2 separate regions of the Homo sapiens genome follow, and region 1 is linked to region 2. The links come from fine-mapping of genetic effects on gene expression. Tissue or cell type: whole blood. Region 2 holds a variant in brackets; the other region holds the start of a gene. All regions are shown on one strand. Distances are between the middles of the regions.

What was found.
Region 1: it holds the start of ZNF438, and the variant in region 2 is fine-mapped to the expression of ZNF438 in whole blood (TOPMed, PIP above 0.99).

Annotation. Positions count from the first base shown.
Region 1 is chr10:31,028,919-31,034,300 of GRCh38, reverse strand. ZNF438 (zinc finger protein 438) reads left to right here and starts at 2,436. Exons shown (of 7, transcript NM_001143768.2): 1 at 2,436-2,468. It overlaps LOC105376481 (a long non-coding RNA gene), which reads right to left and starts at 1,793. Exons shown (of 3, transcript XR_001747410.3): 1 at 1-1,793. RefSeq lists a silencer at 2,215-2,774.
Region 2 is chr10:30,981,280-30,986,661 of GRCh38, reverse strand. It overlaps ZNF438 (zinc finger protein 438), which reads left to right. Exons shown (of 7, transcript NM_001143768.2): 2 at 2,236-2,293. Among named protein-coding and RNA genes, the nearest start is that of ZNF438, 48 kb to the left of the region's middle. The variant C/T (reference allele first, on the strand shown) is at 3,337.

The DNA of each region.
Region 1 (5,382 bases), 48 kb before region 2:
CAGATCCTCTCTTTAATAACAACACTTTTGGCCCTAGCTTCTCACTTCCTGTCTAGGTCAAATTCCAGTTTGTTACAGAAAGTTGACTGAACGTGAGTGGTATTTTCCCACAAATTTCTACTTGACATTCCTTGAGACTGTGATCCTTGCTTGGGTACCTTTACTGTTGGCCATCTTTTGTTCACTGCGTTTACTTTTTTCCTGCATCTAGCAAAACAACGACTTTTTTTTTTGAATACCTGAGATTTCAAGAGAAAGTATACTGAACAATACGATGAGAAGACTATATTCTACAATGCCATCTTTCAGAGGCAAAAGTATCTATAGTAAAAACATTTGATACATTTGGTGTATGCTTCTTACCCATTTCCACTCCAAAAAATAACAGATGACATGTACCTGTGAAACACTCCCATAAGGTATACCTAGAAACTCACTTAAAAAAATTACGATTTTTAGAAATGATATATATAAAACATTTTATAAGCATGTAAACTATTAACAATTTAAAGGTTTCTTAAAATTGTTTTGCAAGGAAAAACATAAATATCACTGTTTTAAAAATATGCAGGACTTTAAAAAATGTTAATTTTTCTATACCTCTGCTCTACAGAAAAACCTTATTGTTACAATTATGGTACAGCCTTTACAAATTTCTTTTACATCATTTGATAATAACTAATATTCAGATAAAATATACAAATATTTTTTCAAATCAGAACATTTAAAAACACTGACGTAGATTTTTCTGGAATAATAAACGTTTTTATTTTTAACCAGCTCAGATCTCGAATTAAAGCCTAATATTCCCATCATCACTCTTTCCTGTAAAAATAAGACAGCACTTTCAATGAGAGTGGAAATAAACCATTGTTTCAGGTTTTACTTACAACTGGAGCTGCCTTGCAAAATCCCTGCCCTGGCCATCTGCCGTGGTTCCAAATAAGTTTGTAAAAGTGAATCTTGCCATTTTCAATACTTCCTCCTTTGGGTCTATTTATTCCGAAGTCTGTTTTTCTCATTCTTTTAATTTTTTTCCCCCCAAGACGGATTTGTCTGAGACACTTTTTTGCCATAACATTTGTTTTTTCTGCTTACGAGAGTGTAAGAATTCCACAAGCCAAATGTTAATATTTTGTTGTCAGTTCTTTAAGCCTTCATTTTTTCCGTCTATCGAGCCCTTTTTTTTAACCAGAACTCATTGCTTCTGAGAGTATAAAAGAGCAAAGAGGCCGGGCGCGGCGGCTCACACCTGTAATCCCAGCACCTTGAGAGGCCGAGGCGGGCGGATCACGAGGTCAAGAGATGGAGACCATCCTGGCCAACATGGTGAAACCCTGTCTCTACTAAAACATAAAAATTAGCCGGCTGTGGTGGCGCGCGCCTGTAATCCCAGCTACTCAGGAGGCTGAGGCAAGAAAATCGTTTGAACCCGGGAGGCAGGGGGTACTGTGAGTTGAGATCGCGCCACTGCACTCCAGCCTGGGAGACAGAGAAACACTCTGTCTCAAAAAAAAAAAAAAAAAAAAGTGGGGAGCAGAGAGCCGGACTTGGACACGGGAAGGTATCGTGACATGAGTGGGTCGGGGGCTGGAAAGTTTGCCCAGGCGAAGAAGTGAACATGTTTATCCGGATCACCGTTTGTTAAATGAACAGCAACCCATAGGTAGCTTCACCGAGCCGAAACGGGAAAGGCGGCAGGCAAGGGAGAAGCTAAAATCTGCAAGAAACGGGCTGGGCTGGAGGCGGCGCCAGGGCAAGAAGGGCAGGTGGGGGCCCGCGGGAGCCGGGAGCCAGGGGCGGGAGCCGGAAGGGCGGGACCCAGGGGCAAGGCCTAAGTGGGCGTGGGAGGGGCATAGTCAAGAGATGGGCGGGGACTGCTCGGGGTCTGGGCGGAGTCTAGCGGGAGCCGCGTCGAGCCGGGGAGGAGCGAGGGACCCTGGGAGAGCTGTCTTTTCAGGGCTGAGGACCCGCCAGCACCTGATGGAGAGCAAATGGCTGTTTCCACACGTGGAGAACTTTTAACGAACACGTGAGGAAGGCGGGCAATGTCTGTGGAAAAACTACCTCACAACCCAGGCGTCTTACTCCAGCCCCCAGGGCGACAGCTTGTTTACAGTATTTCTGAAGGTCTCCGTCCCCTTTTGTCGGCCCCTCCTCCTCCTCTAACCCCGACTTCAGGCTTTGAGTGAGGCTTTGGTAGAGCAGTCGCCGCCGCAGGCGCCCCGGTCGGCGAAGCCCACAGGCATGCGGGCGCAGAGGCCGTCTGCGCCTGCGCGGGGTGTCTGCTACGGGGAGGTGCGTGGAGCTCGAGGGCGTGGAGCTCGGGGGCGTGTCTCCCGCCGCGGCGCCGGGGCGGGGCGAGGGCGGAGCCTGGGGGCCCAGCGGCCCGCGCCCCGTGGCTTGACCTCCCCGACTGCTGGGCCCGTGACGTCACCCCGCTGTGACGCGCACGCTGTAGGAAAACTGTAAGTTTACGAGGATTCCTGCAGCTCCTAGGGCTTGCGGGGCCCGCTGGCAGCTGGCAGTCCCGGCGGTGGTGGTGGCTCTGGGGGCGTCAGTTCCTTGGGGAGTCGCCGATTGTGGCGAAGGGACAGGTGTCTGCTCAGAGTGGCAGCGCGCCCTGCTGGGCGGTAGGGACCTGGGGTGCGGGAGGCGAGGCCGCGCCCCGTGGGGCCGGGCCAGCACCTTTTCCCCTGGGGCGGGGCGCGTCTCCGAGCCTGGGAGCGAGGCCTTAGAAGGGGCGGAAAGTCCAAATGGAGAGTCCCTTTTTTTCTTCCGTGATAAAGGGACTTAGATTCCTTTTCTTCCCCCTCTCAGCCTTGGAGTTTGACATGTTAAGTAGGGGATGGAAGCTTCCTCTCAGAGAATAGGAATCCTATGTCCTGGCCGTTGGGATCCCACAAGTGACCAAGTCATCGTGGACACATTTATAAGATAACCAGTTGCTGCCTCAGTTTTCTTTTTTGTGTAAAAGGGAGGTACAGCAGCCTCTGGCCTCCCTAATGGTTGTTCCCACAGCACTAGGAACACGTGAGATAACACAAGTGTGTAAATTTGCTAGGAGAAAGCTTATACACAGACACTTGGTTATTCTGAGGAATGTGGTAGCCACTGGCTATTTGACCAGGAATCTTGTAGAAGGGGAACTTTTTCACTGTTTTGCCTCCCCCCGACAACCTTCCCTCCATCTGATTCTATACCACACTGGAGCCTGTTGGGTGATCGAACTGTTGTCACTAAACTTGATAGAATGGGGATCCCAAGAAATAACAGGTATCGTTAGCACGGTACTCTTGGCAATTACAATGCCCCCGTTGTCTGGGTTTTGCAGAGGAAGCTTTCAGTGTGCTGGAACTAGCACATTATAGACAACACAGACTCACTGAGTTTTAAGGATTGCTGTATCGATTTGGAATATCCAATCATCGTATCTGACTGCTTGAATATTTTGGTCAAGGGGTACTACATTATCGATTAGTTATTACTAGACTATAATGCCTCTCAAACTCCGGGACTAGTAGTCTTCAGGAACTTTGAAGGGAAGAATACTGTGCACACTTCAGGGTGTATTTATACAGGAGCTCGAGAGTTCACATTTCTGTAAATTCATTTCAGGAGTGTGATATCTTTTCATCCAGGTAGGAAGAGCCTTTGAATCAGAAAGCAGGGCTTCTAATTTTTGTTCTATTCGTTAACTAGCTTCGTGTCCAAGGACAAGTCACGCAAACTTGGAACTTTGTTTTTCTTATCTAAAATGAGAGCCGATGGTTTATCTGTTTGTTGGTTTTTCCAGGATCAAATGAGATCACGAGAGTGCAAATGAAAGGCTAAGTGTGCTATTGTTATTAGGAGATTCGCATTGGTCCCCTAGCCTGGATGAGATGTGAGTCAGAAATCTCTGGAAATAGAGCAGCAAAGAAGACAGCCTCCAACCTAGCAGGGCTCATATTGCAGTGGGAAATAGACAACGAACAATACGTGCATAATGTAATTTCAGGTAGTCATAAGTGCAGTGAAGGGAAGGAAGAAAGGAGGACAGTGGGGGAACAGGGAAGGTTGTTTTTGGTGGGATCTGTCAGGAAAAGCCATTCAAAGGCAGGGACACTTGAAGTGTGAGGGAAAGAGCCTGAGGTAAGAACATTTCAGAGAGGAATAATTAATAGCAATGAACACTTAAAAAAAGTAGAGCTTACCATATGTAAGGCACTATTCTGAACACTAAATTAAATTTTTACAAGTCTTTTGATGTAACCTAGTATCTCCCTTTCATAGATGAGGCAACTGACACACAGAAAGGTTAAGAATTTGCCAAAGTTGCACAGCTAAAACGTGGTAGAGACTATTTGAACGTGGGCAGTCTGACTTCAGAGTCCAGGCTCCAGGTGACTGTATTTTCGGCCTCACAGCAGGAACAGCACAGGACAATGCTCTGAGGTGGTCCAGACACAGTGAGAGTGTTTAGAGCACAGCCGGGAACGGGGAAAGTAGTGGCCAATGATGGTCAAGGGCCAGGCAGGCCGTGGGGTCCCTTGTAGGCTGTGGTGAAGTAAAGATGTTGTTCTAACTGTGATGGAAAACCATTGGAAGGTTTGCATCAAGGGACTGGTGTCTGATTTAAGTTTTATTGTATGGAGAATTAACTGTAGATTAGAGTGGGTCGGATGGAGTGAAAATCGGGAGAAAGCTGCTGTGCCCTGCAGGTGAAATGATGGTGGTTTGGGCTGGGGGAGGTTAGTTGTGGAGATGATGGTAGGCGGTAGAATTGGTGATACGTTTTGAAGGTAGAGCTGACGGGAAACGAGCTGATGTGGAATTTGAAGAAAAGGGAGAAGTGATGATTTTTTAGGTTTAGGCTGGAACAACTAGAAGTATAGTGGTGCTGTTTACTGAGGAAAATTACAAATTTAGTTTTGCACAAGTTCTAAATGCCTGTTAGACATAGTCATAACAACAGTGCTAGTAAAAATAGTATTATGTAAGCGTAAACTGAGTCCCAGGCAGGGTTTTAAGTACTTTAACCTATATTAATTCATTTAATCATCATAAGAATTATATGTGCAAGGAACCATTATTGTCCCCATTTTACAGCACGAGAAAATAGAGGCAAAAAGAGGTTATAAGTGACTTGTCTGAAGTCACCCAGCTGGTGAGTGATGTAGCTAGGATTCAAACCTAAGCATTGTGGCTTTGGAGTCCATGCATTGAATCCCTGTAACCACCTCCGAGTGAACATGTTGAGTATGCATGCCTGTGAATATGGAACTCAGGGGAGTGGTCAGGGTTGGAGATACCCATTTATTTTTCTGAAGAGAAAGCATGCTTTTGTTTTTCATCTAAGCTTTGGTTGTCTGTGGGAGAAAGATTATAGGCAGTGGGACT
Region 2 (5,382 bases):
TGTTTCAAAATTTTTAAAAACTCTGAATTCAAAACACTTCCGACCCCAAACATTTCAGGGTAAGGGATACTGAACCTATAAAATTTATTTGTAACTGCAAAATCAATACTCATGACACTAGGCATTCAACTGAGTGCATGACTGCAAATGGTACAGAATGGTGAAAAATTTGGATTGCTCAACACATTCCTAGTTGACAAGCTGATTTCCTTCAGCTCTCATACGGTAAACAAGTCTCCTTTTTGTGGTTTATATAGTGCCATGATTTTTGCTTTTTTAGGCTTATGATTTCTGTGTTTAAAATGACTACCCAGTGTGGAACTGAAGTGCTGTATATTGCGCCTAAGTGCAAGAAGGCTGTGATGTGCCTTAAGGAGAAAATGCATGTGATAGATAAACTTATAGTGCTGTTGGCTATGAGTTCAGTGTTAGTGACTCAACAGTGAACAGCCATACATTGCTTAACAACAGGGTTAAATTCTGAGAAATGTATCATTAGGTGATTTTGTCATTGTGAAAGTATCATAGAGTGTACTGATATGAATCTATAGCTTACTATACACGTAGGCTATTTGGTATAGCCTCTTGTTCCTGGGCTACAAACCTGTACAGTGTGTTACTATACTGAATTCGTAGGCAATTGTAACACAATAGTAAATATTTATTTATCTAAACATAGAAAATGTACAGTGAAAATATAGCTTGATAATCTTATGGGACCACCTCCATCATATATGCAGTCTGTTGTTGACTGACACATCATGCAGTGGATGACTATATATTAATAAGGTATCTTGAAACAGAAATATACATAAAATGAGGTTATGTTTGATCAGCTAATTAAAATGTAATCAGAGGCTCTCAGGAGCTCTCAGGAACCCAACCCTGAATTTCCCTTATGAGTAAACAGTTTGGTATTCCCTAATTCAGTGTTCATGGTGACTTCATAGAACTTAACTACTGTGAATAAGGAGAACCAACGGTAATTTTGTCTTTGTTGTTGAACTTCTAAACTGATTTTTAAGTAGCAATTAAAGCAATGTCAAGTGTTTCATATTCTACAGAATGAACTTCCAAAAGCTTTACTTTGGTTTCATGAATTAGATGAAATCATCAAACCATTATTGGAATTAACTGATTTTTCTGGTTGGTACATCTCCTGATGCTGACAGAAAGCTGGCAACATTTAACTGTGAGTTTTTCTGTTAATGGAGCCAACCAGTTTTCACTTTACTTTGATGATGTAAAAGAGACGCTTTAGAATCAGAACTAAGTGCATTTTTTTAAAAAGTCATTGGATCTAGATGAAAAGTCATGCTTTAGAGAATAATACGTAAAACACTTTCTCTGTCCTGTCTGCTTTCATTAAATCCGTGTCTTTAAGCTAGCCATGAGCAGGGAGCAGTATTCAGTATTTCTTCTACCTTCATTCAAGACTGGAGGAGTTAGCTGTCCCTACCTGCTCCTGCCTAGGTATACTTTTTCTGCATGGTGCCTGGGTGCTGTCTTTAAGAATGAAGTATCAGTTACAGTACATTTAGTACATTTAGAAATGGGTTACTGCTAGGTGTCTTAAAGATTTAAGCAAGTTGCGAAATTGACAACTGGCTTCATTGCACATGCATCTCACACATGGCTCAATGAGATTATGGCAGAGCCTAAAAGTACAAGTAAGTCTTAGCATATTTTAATGCTATCATTAAAAAAAATCATTAGAAAATGAAAAATCCAGGACAAATGGTAAATTTGTGGGACACTGGGACAATGGCCGTAAATTGGGACTGTCTCAGGCAAACTGACACACTTTACTAGACATGTGTCCTTTTAAAAATCTTCAAATCCCAAACTCTTGATTACTGTTTTCCTGTCAAAAAGGCTGCGCCCTGAATATGAATCACTTGTTTGTGACTGTTTACTAATTTCCACAGTATTATGCACATGGAAAAGAATGTGAAGCATTCTTCTTAGCCAGTTTTATTCATTGTGGCATTTCTTTTTTTCTGGAACATTTTCTATTTATCTTAAAACTTTTATTAAATTTTGCATGCTTTCATTTTTAAACTAAAGACATGTAATCAACTATGGAATTATTTTCTTCTACATTAGTTCTTTTATTATCTTAATAAAAATATACAGTAATTAAAAATGAAACTTGAAAAGAAGGCACCTTTTACATATATTTGATGAAAATGGATTATCTGAATATGATTATAATAATACTTTGTATTGTTACAGAATTAATTAAAAGGATTTACGGTATATCTTATGACTCTACAGGAGCCTTGGGATATAGGTAAGTGACAAGCATTTTTTGAAGAGAGATTTCTGAAACATTAAGTAATTTGATCTCATAGGTTCCTGGCAAAGTAGACAGTGGGGCATATCTTACTTCAGCAATTAACTCTTTTCTCTTCAGTATAACATTTGTAGAAATATCACATTTACATGAATCTTCATGTAACATTTCCCTAATAGCTAACAAATCATATTTCCCAGGGAATTTTAGGCTTATTTGTATAATAATTACAATGAAGATATTGTTTATAAGACATAGAAGTATGGCATGTAGCAAAATTTAGAGCATTAGAAAAAATAATTAAATGCAATATGGTACCCTGGGTTATACCTAGGAACTAAAGAAAGACAGTAGAAAAACAGGTGAAATATAAATGAAGTCTATAGTTAATAGTAATCAATTAGAAATTAATCAATGTTAATTTCTTAGTTTTGACAAATGTCCTGTGGTTATGTAAGATGTTTAACTTTATGGACAACTGGATGAAGGGTGTATAGGAAGTCTATACTATTTTTGTATCTATCTTGTAAATCTAAAATTATTTCAAAATAAGTTTACTTGAAGCACAAAAGTCAGTTTATTGATTCAAAATGTATAGTTTAGAAGTAGATTTTCTGGACCATGGTTTAAAAAAATAAAAAAAATAATTTGAAAAATCCAGATTACATAAAAACGATTCAAGGAAATACATGGCTATAGGTTTCATTTTTCAGTTTATAGGAAGTATGCAATTTTATTTTTTTAACATTGGTGATATGCTTTGGATTTGTGTCCCTGCCCAAATCTCATGTCAAATTGTAATTTCCAATGTTGGAGGAGGGGCCTGATGGGAGGTGATTGGATCATGAGGGCGAATTTCCTTCTTGCTGTTCTTGTGATAGTGAGTGAGTTCTCATGAGATCCGGTTGTTTAAAAGTGTGTAACACCTCCCCCTTCACACTATTCCTCTTCAGCCATGTAAGATGTACCTGCTTCCCCTTTGCCTTCCGCTGTGGTTGAAAGTTTCTTGAGGCCTCCCCAACCATGCTTCCTGTGCAGCT[C/T]GAGGAACCATGAACCAACTAAACCTCTTTTCTTTATAAATTACCCAGTCTCAGATAGTTCTTTATAACAGCGCAAGAAAGGACTGATACAATGGGCATGGTGTTTGCGGACATCTCCTCGTACTTGGTTACAGGCTTTCTCTTTGATACTTTAAGCCACTTGTGTTCTTTGGTCCTTTTGTGTAACTTTTTCTGTTATTCCAAGCAGGCCCTTTAAATGGTTCCCAGTACACTTCTTTTTCTTTTCTTTAGTGTATTGTTTAGAGAAAAAAGTCCAATAATGTGACTCAGTGGTTTGGGGTTGAGACCCTGTTAGTGTAGTTTTGTTCAGTCACACTACTTGAGCTTCTAGGTCAAGTAGTAGACATGGTAGATGTATTGTTAACAAGTACGAATAAAGATGAATATAATTCTTACATATCCATTTCTGTAATTGAGCTAAAATAATACAGAATCTATTGCTGTCAGATAATAGAAATTCTCAGTTTCTAAAATGGACTCTAGCATGATAACTATTTTAAATTTCTATAAATATTAAAAGACTTATAAGAAGGAAACTTTGTAGTTTGCTGAAACTCTTATGTAACTTTTCATTAATAAAAGTAAAGTAGCCATGCAGGTCTTGTAGATGGTTTCCTGCTTCTGCTGCCAAATTTAATGATTTTAGTTAAATTTCATAAAGGGAAATATAAATATATTATACTTAAAGGATATAGACACTTAAAACAACAGACCCATGCCTGAATAACTCTTGCAGAATAATTGTCCGGCTTGGAAATTTCTGTGTTGCTTGGTAGTCTTTAGCCAGAATTGGTGTTAACAGTCTCATGTTAATAGAATTATAGTTAAAGAATTATAATCTATTTTTTAGTTGTTTAACATGATTGTGCTAACCTTGGTTGGGAAGTTGAGAAAAAGACAGGATGGCCGGGCGCGGTGGCTGATGCCTATAATCTCAGCACTTTGTGAGACTGAGGCAGGTGGATCACGAGGTCAGGAGATCGAGACCATCCCGGCTAACATGGAGAAACCCCGTCTCTACTAAAAATACAAAAAATTAGCCAGGCGTGGTGGCAGGTGCCTGTAGTCCCAGCTACTCAGGAGGCTGAGGCAGGAGAATGGTGTGAACCCGGGAGGCGGAGTTCGCAGTGAGCCGAGATCGCGCCACTGTACTCCAGCCTGGGTGACAGCGCGAGACTCCATCTCAAAAATAAAAAAAAAAAAAAGAAAGAGAAAAAGGATGGTTTTCTCAGGCCAAGTTTAAATTACATTGATCATGTAATAGTTCACACAAAACAAGCAAACAAGAAAAACTTATTATTCTGTGCTAGAAGAGCATTAAAAGTATTGTTTTTAGGGACATGCTTACCATTCAGCTGATTGTAATTTGTGGTCATCAAAGTGTAAATAAGAATAGCTAGTATATATTGAACTTTTTTTTTTTTTTTGAGATGGAGTCTCGCTCTGTCACCCATGCTGGCGTGCAATGGCACAATCTCGGCTTGCTGCAACCTCCACCTCCCGGGTTCAAGTAATTCTCCTTCCTCAGCCTCCTGAGCAGCTGGGATTACAGGTGCACGCCACCAGCCCAGCTAATTTTTTTTGTATTTTTAGTAGAGACATGGTTTCACCATGTTGGTCAGGCTGGTCTCGAACTCCTGATCTCATGATCCCCCTGCCTCGGCCTCCCAAAGTGCTGGGATTACAGGTGTGAGCCATCACGCCCGGCCTGAACATTTTCTATGTACCAGGCACTTTACTTACATTATCTCATATAATCTTCATAATTACCTATGAGATAGGCTGGAATTCCCTTTACAGATGAGGCTGAGAGAGAAGAGCTGTCTCCAGTCTAATTCTGAGATGGGGAGGCGGACAGAACAAGTGCCTATTATGTACAGTACCTACTGTTTGTTCATGATATAAGCAGCTCCCAGGAAATGCTGTCATGTTTCCATAAACACGTAGTAAACTTCGGATTATTTCAGCTTTTCTAGGTAAGAATATCTGATCACACTGGGTGACCTAGAGTGGATTCTCCTGGGG